2 linked regions of the Homo sapiens genome follow. The protein of the gene in region 1 purifies or fractionates together with the protein of each later gene. This does not show direct contact. Each region holds a gene or a part of one and is shown in the gene's direction. Other genes may lie near its edges.

Region 1 (7,572 bases):
AACAAATAAAAAAAATGCAAAAATTAGCTGGGTGTGGTGGCGGGAGTCTGTAGTCCTAGCTACTCGGGAGGCTGAGGCAGGAGAACTGCTTGAACCCAGGAGGTGGAGGTTATATGAGCCAAGATCACACCACTGCACTCCCGCCTGGGTGACAGAGCGAGACTCTGTCTCAAAAAAAAAAAAAAAAAAAAAAAAAAAAATCAACATCCCAAACCCAGTGTTGACAGTCTTATTTATGGGTTGAACTGCATTCCTCCCAAATGCATATATTGAAGTCCTAAGTCACAGTACCTGAGAATGTGACCTTATTTGGAAATAGGGCTATTACAGATGTAACTCGTTAAGATGAGGTCATTAGGCTGGGCCTAATCTAATATGCCTGACCTCCTTAGAAAAAAGGGAAAATTCGAACACAGAGAGAACACCATGTGAAGATGAAGGCAGGGATTGGGGGTGACACTTCTGCAAGCCAGTGAATGCCACAGCTTGTCAGCAGCCAGCAGAAGGCAGGTAAAAGGCCTTCCTCGCTGTCCTCGAAGGAACCAACTCTGCCAATGTCTTGAACTTGCACTCCTAACCTCCAGCTCTGTGAGACGACTTCTGTTGTTTATGCCACCCAATTTGTGGTACTTAGTTACGGCAGCCTCATCAAAGTACCACCTATGGGAGCCTCTATTTTGCAGGTGAGGGCGGGGACTGGGCTTTTTCTGGAAAACAGCCCTGCAATACCCTCATCAGACCACCAAACTCTTCACACTCCCTCAGACACAGCATTCACTTCCAGAAATAACTCTAAAGTTTTGTTTTGTTTTTTTAAACTTTGTGGAATACTACTCAGCCAAAAAAAAAAAAAAGAAAAGAAAAAGGAACATGTTACTGATATGTACAACTTGGATAATGGAAATAATGCTGAGTGAAAAAAAAATCCCCAAAGGCTACATACTAATTGATTCCATTTATATAACCTTTTTTTTTTTTTTTGAGACAGTCTCACTCTGTCACCCAGGCTGGAGCACAGTGGCGCGATCTCAGCTCACTGCAACTTCCGCCTCCTGAGTTCAAGCGATTCTCTTGCCTTAGCTTCCCAAGTAGCTGGGATTACAGGTGCGTGCCACCATGCCCAGCTAATTTTTGTATTTTTAGTAGAGACAGGGTTTCGCCATGTTGGCCAGGCTGGTCTCGAACTCCTGACCTCAAGTGATCTGCCTGCCTTGGCTTCCCAAAGTGCTGGGATTACATGAGTGAGCCACCGCACCTGGCCGCATTTATGTAACAATTTTGAAGTGAAAAAAAAAAATGACAGAAATGGAGATTAGATGAGTAGTTGCCAGGGGTTAGTTGTGGGAGGGAGGGAAAAGGAGGGAAGGAGGTGGGCAACAGGAGAAAGACTTGTGGTCACAGAGCTGTGCTTTATCTTGACTGTGGTGGATCCCCAAATTTACCCGTGACAAGATTGCATAGAACTAAGTATACACACACGTGAATGCGTGTGCACGCACACAGTAGAGGTTAAACCACGGGAGATGTGGGTAAGATTGGTAAATTGTGTCAATATCAATATCCTAGTTGTGATATTGTCCTATAGTTTCGCAAGGTGTTATTGTTGTGGGAAACTGGATAAAGGATACACGGAGTCTGCATTTTCTTTTTTTTATTTTTATTTTTTGAGACGGGGTCTCACTCTGTCATCCAGGCTGGAGTGCAGTGGCCCAAGTATGGCTCACTGCAGCCTCGACCTCAACCTCAAGTGAACCTCCCACCTCAGCCTCCCAAGTAGCTAAGACCACAGGCGTGCGACCCCATGCCCAGCTAATTTTTAAATTTTTTGTAGAGACTAGGCCTCACCATGTTGCCCAGGCTTTTATTTCTTATAAGTATATTTAAATTTATAATTATATCCACATTTTAAAATTTTAATTTAAAAAATTACTCTGAGGCCGGGCATTGTGGCTCATGCCTCTAATCCCCAGCACCTTGGGAGGCCGAGTTGGGCAGATCACCCGAGGTCAGAAGTTCGAGACCAGCCTGAGTAACATGGAGAAACCCCCGTCTCTACTAAAAATACAAAATTGGCCGGGCGTGGTGGTGCATTCCTGTAATCCCAGCTACTCGGGAGGCTGAGGCAGGAGAATTGCTTGAACCCAGGAGGTGGAGGTTGCAGTGAGCCAAGATTGTGCCACTGCACTGCAGCCTGGGCCACAGAGAGAATCTGCCAAAAAAAGAAAAAAAAAAAAATTTCAGCCGTACAAGGATGTTCATAGCAACCCTGCTGGAAATAGGAAAAAAAATTGGAAATAACCTAAACTACTCACAATAGGAATCAGCTAAAACCCTGGGGGTTTAATTCCAGGGAGTACTGTGAACAATGACAAGTTTGTGGACTGAGTAAAAATAAACAGCTGTCAATGACTTAACATTAAATGAAACAGCAGAAGATGTCACAGCAGGTTCTCGCTGAGCCATTCAGAGGGGTGTGGATCATTTAGAGGTTCAAGTCCACTGGATTCTTCTTTTTCCTTTTAATATTACTTCACTTCCAAATAAGGAAAGGAAAGGAAAGGAAATCACGTCCAGTCCTGAGACTTGCCATCCTGCAGTCACCCCTCCTTTTGTCTCCAGCAGGTGGCAGACGCGTTCCAGGGATGAATCCCACTGCCTCTGTTTAATGCAGACGGTCCAGCCGCTCCCAACAGCAGGTGGGGCTATAAGCATCCATCCTACCTGCTCAAGGAACCCAGGCATCAGAACTGCTCTCTCCCAAGTCCATTGCAAGAAGGCAGTCGTCTGGTCATGAGAGGGTTAACAGTCCACATTCCAGAGCAAGGGAAAAGGAGGCTGGAGGGTCATAGACAAGGGGAGGTGGCGCGGAGGGCCAGCTTCTCACAACACTACCGGCTCTGCTGGGAGAGATAGATCACCCCCAACAATGGCCACAGCTGTTTTCATCTGCCCTGAAGGAAACTGACTTAGGAAGCAGGTATCAGAGAGGGCCCTTCCTGAGGGGGCTTCTGTCTGGCTTGTAAAACTGTCAGAGCAGCTGCATTCATGTGTCGGATGATGGATGATGGAAAGGAGGACAGTCGGCTGCAGATGGACACAGCGACTTGCAAGTTGAGGCAGGTGGCAAAGGACTTGCAGAGGCTCTGCAGGTGGGGCATGCTGATTCATTGCCCAGTTAAAATACCAGAGGATCTGGGCAGCCTCTTCACAGGAGCTGCTTGTCCTCAAACAATCTGTCTTCAATGAAAGATTCCTCTGGCCTTCCTTTCTCTTCTTGCACCTCAGGTGTGAATCCTTCTCCCCCACGCCTCTACCTGCCCCCCCGCCCCCCGCCCCGGCCCTGTGTGGCTCATTATATGCAGGGCCAAGGCAGCATTTTCTCTTAGCTTCTTTGTGACCACTTGGTCCTGGGATGGCTTCATGGAACACATCCTGTGGTGTGCACCAATGAAGCTTTCCATACAGGACTCAAAACTGTTTTTGAAAAATGTAACCAGCTGGAAGACAAGAAAATAAAATGTCAGCACTAAAAACGCTGGCTGTGGCTTTTGCTAAGGAAAGGAATTTGGTGTTGTCTTCTCACACACACAGACTGGTTGGGGAAATGACTGTCTTCAGCACATCACCCTGCGAGCCACAGTGAGTGCCCTGGCTCAGAAGTGCCTGTCACAGTGCACAGGATCCCTGAGGAGCATGAGCTGGGATTTCCTCTGTGCTGTCCACCACAGGAGCCTGAGTGACCAGCGCATCCTCGATTTGTAACCAGAATCCTGCCCTCTCTCCCAAGCGGGCACCCTTGCTCTGACCCTCTAGTTCTCTCTCTTGCCTTCCAGAGAATACCAAGAGAGGCTTTCTTGGTTAGGACAATGAATGCTGAGACTTGTGGAGTTGGGACCAATGGGATTTCTTTAAAAGCATCTTTTTGCCTCTGGCTGGGTCTATGGGGGTCAAACAGAAACGCCTTGGGCCATTTGTTGGTGGGGTGACAAATGAACTTGGCCTGAGAAATGGAATAGGCCGGGCTCAGCCCCGCGAAGCACTCAGAACTGCACATTTTCTTTGTTGAGCGGGTCCACAGTTTGTTTTGAGAATGCCCGAGGGCCCAGGGAGACAGACAATTAAAAGCCGGAGCTCATTTTGATATCTGAAAACCACAGCCGCCAGCACGTGGGAGGTGCCGGAGAGCAGGCTTGGGCCTTGCCTCACACGCCCCCTCTCTCTGGGTCACCTGGGAGTGCCAGCAGCAATTTGGAAGTTTGCTGAGCTAGAGGAGAAGTCTTTGGGGAGGGTTTGCTCTGAGCACACCCCTTTCCCTCCCTCCGGGGCTGAGGGAAACATGGGACCAGCCCTGCCCCAGCCTGTCCTCATTGGCTGGCATGAAGCAGAGAGGGGCTTTAAAAAGGCGACCGTGTCTCGGCTGGAGACCAGAGCCTGTGCTACTGGAAGGTGGCGTGCCCTCCTCTGGCTGGTACCATGCAGCTCCCACTGGCCCTGTGTCTCGTCTGCCTGCTGGTACACACAGCCTTCCGTGTAGTGGAGGGCCAGGGGTGGCAGGCGTTCAAGAATGATGCCACGGAAATCATCCCCGAGCTCGGAGAGTACCCCGAGCCTCCACCGGAGCTGGAGAACAACAAGACCATGAACCGGGCGGAGAACGGAGGGCGGCCTCCCCACCACCCCTTTGAGACCAAAGGTATGGGGTGGAGGAGAGAATTCTTAGTAAAAGATCCTGGGGAGGTTTTAGAAACTTCTCTTTGGGAGGCTTGGAAGACTGGGGTAGACCCAGTGAAGATTGCTGGCCTCTGCCAGCACTGGTCGAGGAACAGTCTTGCCTGGAGGTGGGGGAAGAATGGCTCGCTGGTGCAGCCTTCAAATTCAGGTGCAGAGGCATGAGGCAACAGACGCTGGTGAGAGCCCAGGGCAGGGAGGACGCTGGGGTGGTGAGGGTATGGCATCAGGGCATCAGAACAGGCTCAGGGGCTCAGAAAAGAAAAGGTTTCAAAGAATCTCCTCCTGGGAATATAGGAGCCACGTCCAGCTGCTGGTACCACTGGGAAGGGAACAAGGTAAGGGAGCCTCCCATCCACAGAACAGCACCTGTGGGGCACCGGACACTCTATGCTGGTGGTGGCTGTCCCCACCACACAGACCCACATCATGGAATCCCCAGGAGGTGAACCCCCAGCTCGAAGGGGAAGAAACAGGTTCCAGGCACTCAGTAACTTGGTAGTGAGAAGAGCTGAGGTGTGAACCTGGTTTGATCCAACTGCAAGATAGCCCTGGTGTGTGGGGGGGTGTGGGGGACAGATCTCCACAAAGCAGTGGGGAGGAAGGCCAGAGAGGCACCCCTGCAGTGTGCATTGCCCACGGCCTGCCCAGGGAGCTGGCACTTGAAGGAATGGGAGTTTTCGGCACAGTTTTAGCCCCTGACATGGGTGCAGCTGAGTCCAGGCCCTGGAGGGGAGAGCAGCATCCTCTGTGCAGGAGTAGGGACATCTGTCCTCAGCAGCCACCCCAGTCCCAACCTTGCCTCATTCCAGGGGAGGGAGAAGGAAGAGGAACCCTGGGTTCCTGGTCAGGCCTGCACAGAGAAGCCCAGGTGACAGTGTGCATCTGGCTCTATAATTGGCAGGAATCCTGAGGCCATGGGGGCGTCTGAAATGACACTTCAGACTAAGAGCTTCCCTGTCCTCTGGCCATTATCCAGGTGGCAGAGAAGTCCACTGCCCAGGCTCCTGGACCCCAGCCCTCCCCGCCTCACAACCTGTTGGGACTATGGGGTGCTAAAAAGGGCAACTGCATGGGAGGCCAGCCAGGACCCTCCGTCTTCAAAATGGAGGACAAGGGCGCCTCCCCCCACAGCTCCCCTTCTAGGCAAGGTCAGCTGGGCTCCAGCGACTGCCTGAAGGGCTGTAAGGAACCCAAACACAAAATGTCCACCTTGCTGGACTCCCACGAGAGGCCACAGCCCCTGAGGAAGCCACATGCTCAAAACAAAGTCATGATCTGCAGAGGAAGTGCCTGGCCTAGGGGCGCTATTCTCGAAAAGCCGCAAAATGCCCCCTTCCCTGGGCAAATGCCCCCCTGACCACACACACATTCCAGCCCTGCAGAGGTGAGGATGCAAACCAGCCCACAGACCAGAAAGCAGCCCCAGACGATGGCAGTGGCCACATCTCCCCTGCTGTGCTTGCTCTTCAGAGTGGGGGTGGGGGGTGGCCTTCTCTGTCCCCTCTCTGGTTTGGTCTTAAGACTATTTTTCATTCTTTCTTGTCACATTGGAACTATCCCCATGAAACCTTTGGGGGTGGACTGGTACTCACACGACGACCAGCTATTTAAAAAGCTCCCACCCATCTAAGTCCACCATAGGAGACATGGTCAAGGTGTGTGCAGGGGATCAGGCCAGGCCTCGGAGCCCAATCTCTGCCTGCCCAGGGAGTATCACCATGAGGCGCCCATTCAGATAACACAGAACAAGAAATGTGCCCAGCAGAGAGCCAGGTCAATGTTTGTGGCAGCTGAACCTGTAGGTTTTGGGTCAGAGCTCAGGGCCCCTATGGTAGGAAAGTAACGACAGTAAAAAGCAGCCCTCAGCTCCATCCCCCAGCCCAGCCTCCCATGGATGCTCGAACGCAGAGCCTCCACTCTTGCCGGAGCCAAAAGGTGCTGGGACCCCAGGGAAGTGGAGTCCGGAGATGCAGCCCAGCCTTTTGGGCAAGTTCTTTTCTCTGGCTGGGCCTCAGTATTCTCATTGATAATGAGGGGGTTGGACACACTGCCTTTGATTCCTTTCAAGTCTAATGAATTCCTGTCCTGATCACCTCCCCTTCAGTCCCTCGCCTCCACAGCAGCTGCCCTGATTTATTACCTTCAATTAACCTCTACTCCTTTCTCCATCCCCTGTCCACCCCTCCCAAGTGGCTGGAAAAGGAATTTGGGAGAAGCCAGAGCCAGGCAGAAGGTGTGCTGAGTACTTACCCTGCCCAGGCCAGGGACCCTGCGGCACAAGTGTGGCTTAAATCATAAGAAGACCCCAGAAGAGAAATGATAATAATAATACATAACAGCCGACGCTTTCAGCTATATGTGCCAAATGGTATTTTCTGCATTGCGTGTGTAATGGATTAACTCGCAATGCTTGGGGCGGCCCATTTTGCAGACAGGAAGAAGAGAGAGGTTAAGGAACTTGCCCAAGATGACACCTGCAGTGAGCGATGGAGCCCTGGTGTTTGAACCCCAGCAGTCATTTGGCTCCGAGGGGACAGGGTGCGCAGGAGAGCTTTCCACCAGCTCTAGAGCATCTGGGACCTTCCTGCAATAGATGTTCAGGGGCAAAAGCCTCTGGAGACAGGCTTGGCAAAAGCAGGGCTGGGGTGGAGAGAGACGGGCCGGTCCAGGGCAGGGGTGGCCAGGCGGGCGGCCACCCTCACGCGCGCCTCTCTCCACAGACGTGTCCGAGTACAGCTGCCGCGAGCTGCACTTCACCCGCTACGTGACCGATGGGCCGTGCCGCAGCGCCAAGCCGGTCACCGAGCTGGTGTGCTCCGGCCAGTGCGGCCCGGCGCGCCT
Region 2 (7,166 bases), on another chromosome or scaffold:
ACAGCCGATGGGTATTGTTTCATTTAATCCTCACCATAACCCTTCGAGGGGTGGATACTGTTGTTGCCATTCCAAGTGAGGAGTCCCCATTTCAGAGGTGAAATGCTTTTTCAAAAGCTGATGGGACTAGAAAAGGTGAAGCTGCTGAACCCAGGACTTGCTGCCTCTTACTGTCTGCTGTCCATGGCTAGTTGTGGGCCTGGTCCAAGGCCAGATCATTTGAGTGTGGCATCCTTATGGTTTAACTGCTGTCTTTGTGCTAAAGCCCTCTGGTGGGGGCCCTCGTGAAGGCCTGGGCTGGTAGGCTGGGTATCTGGCCTTCCAGCTGTTGTCTGTGTCTGGCAGAGCGATCCTGTCGGTCCTTGGAGAGAGCACTGCATAGCCTGACCCATGGCCTGCATGTTGCCTCAAATGCACCCTTGGGTCTACAAACTGGGATAGACTCCCTGCATCCTGCAGCTCTACCCTGGCCTACAGGCTGGAAGCCTGTCAGCTGCAATGAAGTTTGCTACAAATAGGCAGAAATGCCAAGTGCAGCTCAGCCAGGCAGTGAATCCAGCAGTACAGCTTGCTGGTTAAAGGACAGGGGCTTTGAAGGTCCTGAACAGGGGATGTGTCATGTTGCCCAAGAAAGTGATTGCTTCAGGAGAGGGGACCTGGCATCCAGCATGGGGGGAATAGTCTCCTTTTTGCTCTGGGCCCTTCTACCTGATTGAGTTTTGTACTGTGTGCAAGTAACTCCTAAACCAAGAAGAACTTGGATGTTGATGTTAGCCAGGCCTGGGTTCAACACCTGGCTCTGCTGCATGTCACAGTCACAGCCGACATTTGTGGAGCTCTGTCTACATGTTGTGCTAATTTTGGCCTATTTGCCATTTACTGGTCATGTGACATTGGACAAGTGGCTTTTTCTCTGAACCTCTTTCCTCCTTCCCCAGTTATGAATGATAATGTTTTGCAGAGTTGGGGATTGAGTGAGGACATGAGAAAGCGCTTGCCACAGGGCCTGAGATGTTGGGAGAACTCAGTAAATGGGAACTGTCAATTATGGCTTTTGTTCTGAGTGTAAATGTTGGGGGGATGAGTGTTGCTGAGGGGCTACAGAGAAGCAGGTCTTAGCAGCATGTCGGGAGAGGCTGCCTGCCTTGGCCTTCAGGGATGAGTGTGCTGCAGTTCCACACTACCCCCAAGGGATGGCTTTTCTGAGAAGACAAGGACACTGTGGCAGTGAGCATGCCCTTTCCAGACTCTTCCCGGAAAGGTTCAGTTCCCACAATGCTAGAATTTTCACCTGACTCCTTGTCAGCATTGCCATTGGTCCACGGATGTAGGTAGCACCTTTCACAATGCATTCTGTTCAGCATTTGCCTGTAGTGGTCTGTTTCATCCCTGTTGCTTCGTACAATACTTCCCCCTATTGTAGGTTTTCTGATGTCTTGCTAATGTATTTTGGAATTAGTGCGTACACTAGATTGAAGAGTCATTCATTTTGTGATCGCACATTCCCCTAGAAAACTGGGAAGTCCAGTCTGATCCATGGGAAAACTGCAGTTCCTGGGGGTTTCCCTGAGATCTCCAGCCCTTCTGCCTTCCATGACAATGCTCTTTGGTAAAATTCTGAAGTACCTGAGAGCTTTTAAATTGTGAATAATACAACAAACTCACCTGTGCCACCAGGCTCAGCCCAGGCATAAAGTATGACCTGTACCTGTGGGGCCCCTTTGTGCCTTCTCTGTTTGTCCCTCTCCCTTCCAAAGGTAAGCATTTGGGGTCACCAGGTGGATCTCAAGCTTGGCTACAGAGGGAGTCACCTGAGGAGGTCAGTACTGGTGCCTGGGTCCCAGCCAGGGTGTGGCCCAGGCAGTAGGACTTTGAAGAGCTCTCTGGGTGATTCTAGTGTGCAACCAGCATTGAGAACCACAAGTGTCCATCTTTCCAGGTATTACTCTTACTATAGCTGTGCATGTCCCTAAACAAGGCGCTGTTGGTGTGTTTTTAAACGTGATGTAAATGGTGCTGTACAGTTTGTATGTTTTGCTTTTGCTTACGTAGCATTATGCTTGTGAGATCAATCCACAACTAAATAGCTCTCGTTCAGACATTTTCCGGTGGTAGAGTGTCCATTCTAGAAGCATACAGCCGCTGCCGGAGCCATATTCTGTTGATGATCATGTAGAGGGTTTGCGGTGTTCACTGTGACGAATGTGAACATCCTTGAACGCTTTCCCCGTGCGTGGGAGTTTCTCTGTGCGATGCTGCCCAGCCTTTGCCACATCATGGGGCACGTAGACAATCATATTTTCACTTTGGCAAATGAGGGGGCTCTGGACTCCCTAGATCCCACCCAGCCATCTCAAGGGCTATGGCTTTAAGATCTTACCCACTGTTGGGAGCTCAGCCCTAGAGTTTATTCCCAGGAGGGGAATTGGGACAGCATCTTCTACTTCCTTAGATATTGCAGGAGTCCCTTCTGGAGTGGTTATGGCAACTTCTACTCCCTGCAGAAGTCTGGATTTTTGCCAACCCTTGGCACTGTCCAACCTTTTAATTATTGCAAATCTGGTGAGTATGATATGGTACCTTGTTTTATTCAGTATTTCCTAATGTCTGGTACGTTGAGCATGTTTTTATGTGTATTGCTCTTTTGAGTTTAATCTTTTAACTGCTTGATTGCATCTTACTTACACATTTGCCTTTTTCTTATTACTTTGCAAAAGTTCATATACTGGATCCTGTTTCTTTGGGGTCCAGTGCTGCAAATATCTTCTCCCAGTCTGACTTGTCTGAGCTTTTTTAATGGGGCTTTTGGAAACCTCAGAGTTTAAATCGCTTTTTTACACTTACATCCTTGATCTACCTCAGTGATGCCCAAACCAATGGGTGATTTTTTGGGATATTTAGCAATGTCCAGAGACATTTTTGTTGTTTCTTGGGGATGATGGTGCTCCTGGCGTCAAGTGAGTAGAGGCCAGGGATGCAACTAAATACCCTACAATGTGCGGGGCAGCCTCTTACAACTAAGAATTATCTGGTCCAAAATGTCAAAGTGCTCAGGTTGGAGACCCTGCCCTAGGGATTCTGATCAGGAATGAGGCAGGTTGCTAGAATCTGAATTTTTCACAAGTACCTTGGGTGGCATTTATGATCAGGGGTGTTTGGGAACCACAAAAATATAGAGTATAAATACCTTAGGATGGCAAAGAGAGGTCAGTGAAGGTTCCCTGGAGGTGGTGGGAGAGGGGAAAGGAGAGGTCAGACATCCAGGGAGAGAGGAAGCACATGGTATGCTCACGGGGCGGGGAGGAGGGGAGCCTAGTGGCCCAATCCTCCTGACCCCCAGAGCAGCCTTCTCCTCCCTTGGGTCCCTGAAAGCAACACCAACTCCATCCTGGGGGCTGGAACTTGCTGCCTCTGGACGCTGCTGCTCTGCTTCCAGCAATAATGATGAAAGATGAGATTGTTAAAGACCCATAGCTGCTTTTGAGTGCTGTTGGTAGACCCAGCATTGTGCTGTGTGCCTTCTGTACGTTCTTTCATCATATTTTTATGTCAACCCTGTGAGATCGTTTGTAGAAGAGAAAACTGCTAGACAGAGGTTAATTGAAGCACCAATGTCATCCAGCAAGAAGGTATCAGAGCTGGGTTTCCAACACTTAACTGCTGTGCTGTGCTGAGGACGTCCTGGAGCCCAAGTCCAGTGCTGCCCAGTGTGGTCCCGGTCAGTTCTGCTCTCCAGCCTTGCCTAATGGGTCTGGGATCCCAGGCTGCCCTGACTTTGGACAGCCTTCCTAAATAGCTCTCGTGCCCCGTGGCAGCAGGAGAGAGACCCCCCACATGCGAGGAGCTGCTTGACTTCCATTTGTCTTTCTACGTGCTAGGCATTTGAGCTGACTTTCAAAGGGATCACTTCCTGCTTTGAAAGCAACCACAGTATCTTAAAGTCAAAACGCTGATTGAAACCTCCTGGAGAGTGTGCCTGGCTCCCTTGCCCTTATTTGTCCAAAGTATGATTCTTTCGCCACAAGCATTTCCTGACGGCATTCTTGAGCCGGAGCCCAGTGTCACGGTCTGCCTGTTCATTTATGGGAACTCTGGGCTGTCATTTGGATAATTGATTTCAGGGCCCTGGGTCTTCCCAAGCAGCTGAGTTCTGCAGACATCAAAGGCAGAACGTGGAAGGTTCCTTCCCTGCGCAGCTGAGTTGAATTCTATTTATCTTTTCAATTCTGGTGAAAGGAGTTTTCCTATGAGTGCCTTACTTTTTCTTTGTGGTCTAGTCCTGCTGCCTCTGCTTGGGAATGGCACTGCACCTCTCTGAGCCTCTGTTTTATTTGTGGAAAATGCAAGGGAATGAGCTCCCCTCAAAAAAGAACTGGTAGAAAGATAATACGGTCTTTCCCTGCCTTGTCAGCCTTCTGAGAAAAAATTACTTGGTGTAGGGTAGCACAGAGGCCTCAAGCTGGTAGCCTGCAGGCCCAGTTCAACTGCAGATGTGTTTTGTTTGCCTTGTGGTGGGTTGATGACAGTTTTGTTTTGTTTTAATTAGTTTACCGTCCTTTAAAAATCAGGGAATTCACAGAAAAATCTGGGTTTCTGGCATTGCATGGAACATCAGAGCTCACAGCTCTTGGGCCCACATTCCTGCCTGGCCACTCTTGGCTGGAGTGGGAAGAGCCTGCCTCTCTTGGGGGCAGGGCAGATGCTGTCCTGTCAGCCCCAGCCTCAGCCCCGCCCAGCTGCACTCATTTATTGTGCTTACTGGCCCTGGAGGCATCTGGGTTGCATAAGATATTAATTCCATATTTTGTTTTCTCAGATGTAGAAAGAAGTGGGGTGGGATCACATTTGCAGGTCACTGTCAGGGTGATGTGATTTACCATGCCTGGGAAGGCCTCTTTCTTCCCTGAAACCAGGAGTTGACTCAGGGCTATACATTTGTATTGCATTTCCCCCCACTTGGGGTATTCTTCCCACCTACTCAGGAAATTGGAACAGTGCGGAAGTAGGAAGTGGAAGCCGCTGGAGGGTGGAGACCGTTCTTTTAACAAAAGGCCCAGGAACTTTAGGCTGAGCTGTTTCATCAGGGGAACCTGGAAACGGCCCTGTTATCAAACTTTCCTGGCAATTCATGCAAAGAATACCAAACTATGCCCTAAAACCATGAGAGGGCACTTGGCAGGGACTGGACCTGCCAGGTAAGGGGTAGGGGAAAGCGGGCAGACTTAAGACTCTGGATTGTGAAAAAGATGCGTTTGCTGCTCTCAACTTTTGCTGGCCTCTGCCACTGATCCAAGGCCCAGGATCAGTAGGGCCCAGTCTGAGGAGGACGTGGAACAGGGCACAGCATTGTTAGGAGTGGAACAGGGCACAGCGTTGTTAGGAGTGGAAATGTTGGCCCTTCTCCCAAAGTGGGGAGGAAGGTGGTAGCATAAAGTGACCGATTCCTACTGAAGCCTTCTCACGGCCCTGCGCACTGGCATTTTCCACCTGTAATGCGTGGCAGGAGCCGTGGGGACGCCCCTTGCCTGAGGTCACCCTGCTTGTCAGAAGGCCTCGACTTCACCCTCTCATCTGTCTGGCTTCTTTTTAGAGCTTCACATTTGCTGTTGGGAGATACTTGGACTTTGCTCCATTCCTGCCTTCCTTTTTGGTACCTCCTCCTCCTAGGCTCCAGTCCTGTCTTCTACAAATACCACTCCCAGAGACACTGCATTTCAGTAGAGGAGTTCTGAAAACCCTCAGGATCTCTGGTGGAGGAATGTCAGCTCAGTGACAAGATTAGAAAGGACATTGAGCAGCAGAGTAGGGAGTCTTCCTGGCCCCCACCCCCAAGAATGTTTCACAGTGCCTGGATTTGGTCAGCTTTGGGACCTTTTTCCATATCCAATAAAAGCTGATTCTGTCTCCCCATGTTTACCGAGCTGCCTGAGGGTGGGGTCTGTCTTGGTCATTCACTAGCCACTAAGTGCTTGTTGCAGGAAGTTGTGGGATAGGACTTCCTGTGTTGGTGCTGGTCAGTGTCTAGGGCTCAGCCTTGGGAGTCAGAGGTCACAGTCTGCGAGGGTGAGACTTGTGCGTTCTTAGAAATGGCTCTGTTAATGTGACAGTTTGAAGGAAGCTTTGTGGAAAGAGGAAGTAGATATTTTTTACCCAGAAGGCTTTCTTCTATCCTTGGTATGTGGCCATTTGGGCCTGTTTTACCCAGGTGTGGTACACGAGGCCCCTGTTGGATGTCCTTGTGTAAGGGATATTTGAGGGTACTTCAGAAGTGTACTTTTGGGCCTCAAGAGTCGGGATGTCTAACAGAGCCTCAGACCAGGGTCACCTGGGGTTATGGTTGTGTCCAGCCAGTAGGGCCTGGAGGCTGTGGGGGCTTCCTCAGCCCTTAGTGGGCAGGTAGGCAGGTGAGGCTGCCATTCTCCAGGCAGTCCCGCTCTCCGCTGGGAGGTAGAGGGAGCCGAGAGACACCCCAGCTCTGCTCAGGGCCTCCCACAAGAGGAGGGCCCATGTAACCAGCCCCTGCCTCCTCCCTCTGCAGGCTGGATCCTCATTGACCGCTGTGGGAAGCACTTTGGTACGATACTCAACTACCTTCGAGACGGGGCGGTGCCTTTACCCGAGAGCCGCCGGGAGATCGAGGAGCTGCTAGCAGAAGCCAAGTACTACCTAGTCCAAGGCCTGGTGGAAGAGTGCCAGGCGGCCCTACAAGTAGGCATCACCCTTTCTTCCCATATGGGTGGAGAGGCACCAAGCCTACCTGCCTTCCTCATTTTCCCTCTCTGCAAAATGGGGGCAGTTTCTGTCTGACTGAGATGTTGTGAGAGTTAATGAGTTTGCCCTGGAGCCCGATTCCTTCGGTTGGAGTGACCCCTGAGAGGCCTCCCTGGAACAGCAGGCCACCTAACTACTGTGTCACTCCTTGCAGCCCCATGCTGTTGGATCTTCTCATGTGTACATCTCAACCCTTCAGCAGAGAACCCCGCGGTGTGAAACTTGGTCGGTGTTCGGGACCAATCTTAGGGCTTACTCTAGTCCCACAAGTCATTGTTGGGAGCTCAGCATAATCTCTACAGACAGACACCCCTCACTCCTTAGCTAGACAGAGCAGGACCACTGGAGTCAGGTCTGGTGACAGTAAAATCCCACAAAAACAAAATGCTTCTAGA

Evidence for each region. Proteins that work in one complex are often made in the same cells at the same time.
Region 2: the proteins of SOST (region 1) and KCTD10 purify together in Homo sapiens (affinity purification with mass spectrometry; 2 studies listed by BioGRID and IntAct, with this or other methods). This does not show direct contact.

The regions. Positions count from the first base shown.
Region 1 is NC_000017.11:43,755,643-43,763,214, reverse strand, and holds the start of SOST (sclerostin precursor), read left to right. Parts: upstream 1-4,423; 5' UTR 4,424-4,473; coding exon 4,474-4,693; intron 4,694-7,451; coding exon 7,452-7,572. UniProt on the Homo sapiens protein: Negative regulator of bone growth that acts through inhibition of Wnt signaling and bone formation.
Region 2 is NC_000012.12:109,460,178-109,467,343, reverse strand, and holds part of KCTD10 (BTB/POZ domain-containing adapter for CUL3-mediated RhoA degradation protein 3), read left to right. Parts: intron 1-6,538; coding exon 6,539-6,708; intron 6,709-7,166. UniProt on the Homo sapiens protein: Substrate-specific adapter of a BCR (BTB-CUL3-RBX1) E3 ubiquitin-protein ligase complex. The BCR(BACURD3) E3 ubiquitin ligase complex mediates the ubiquitination of target proteins, leading to their degradation by the proteasome.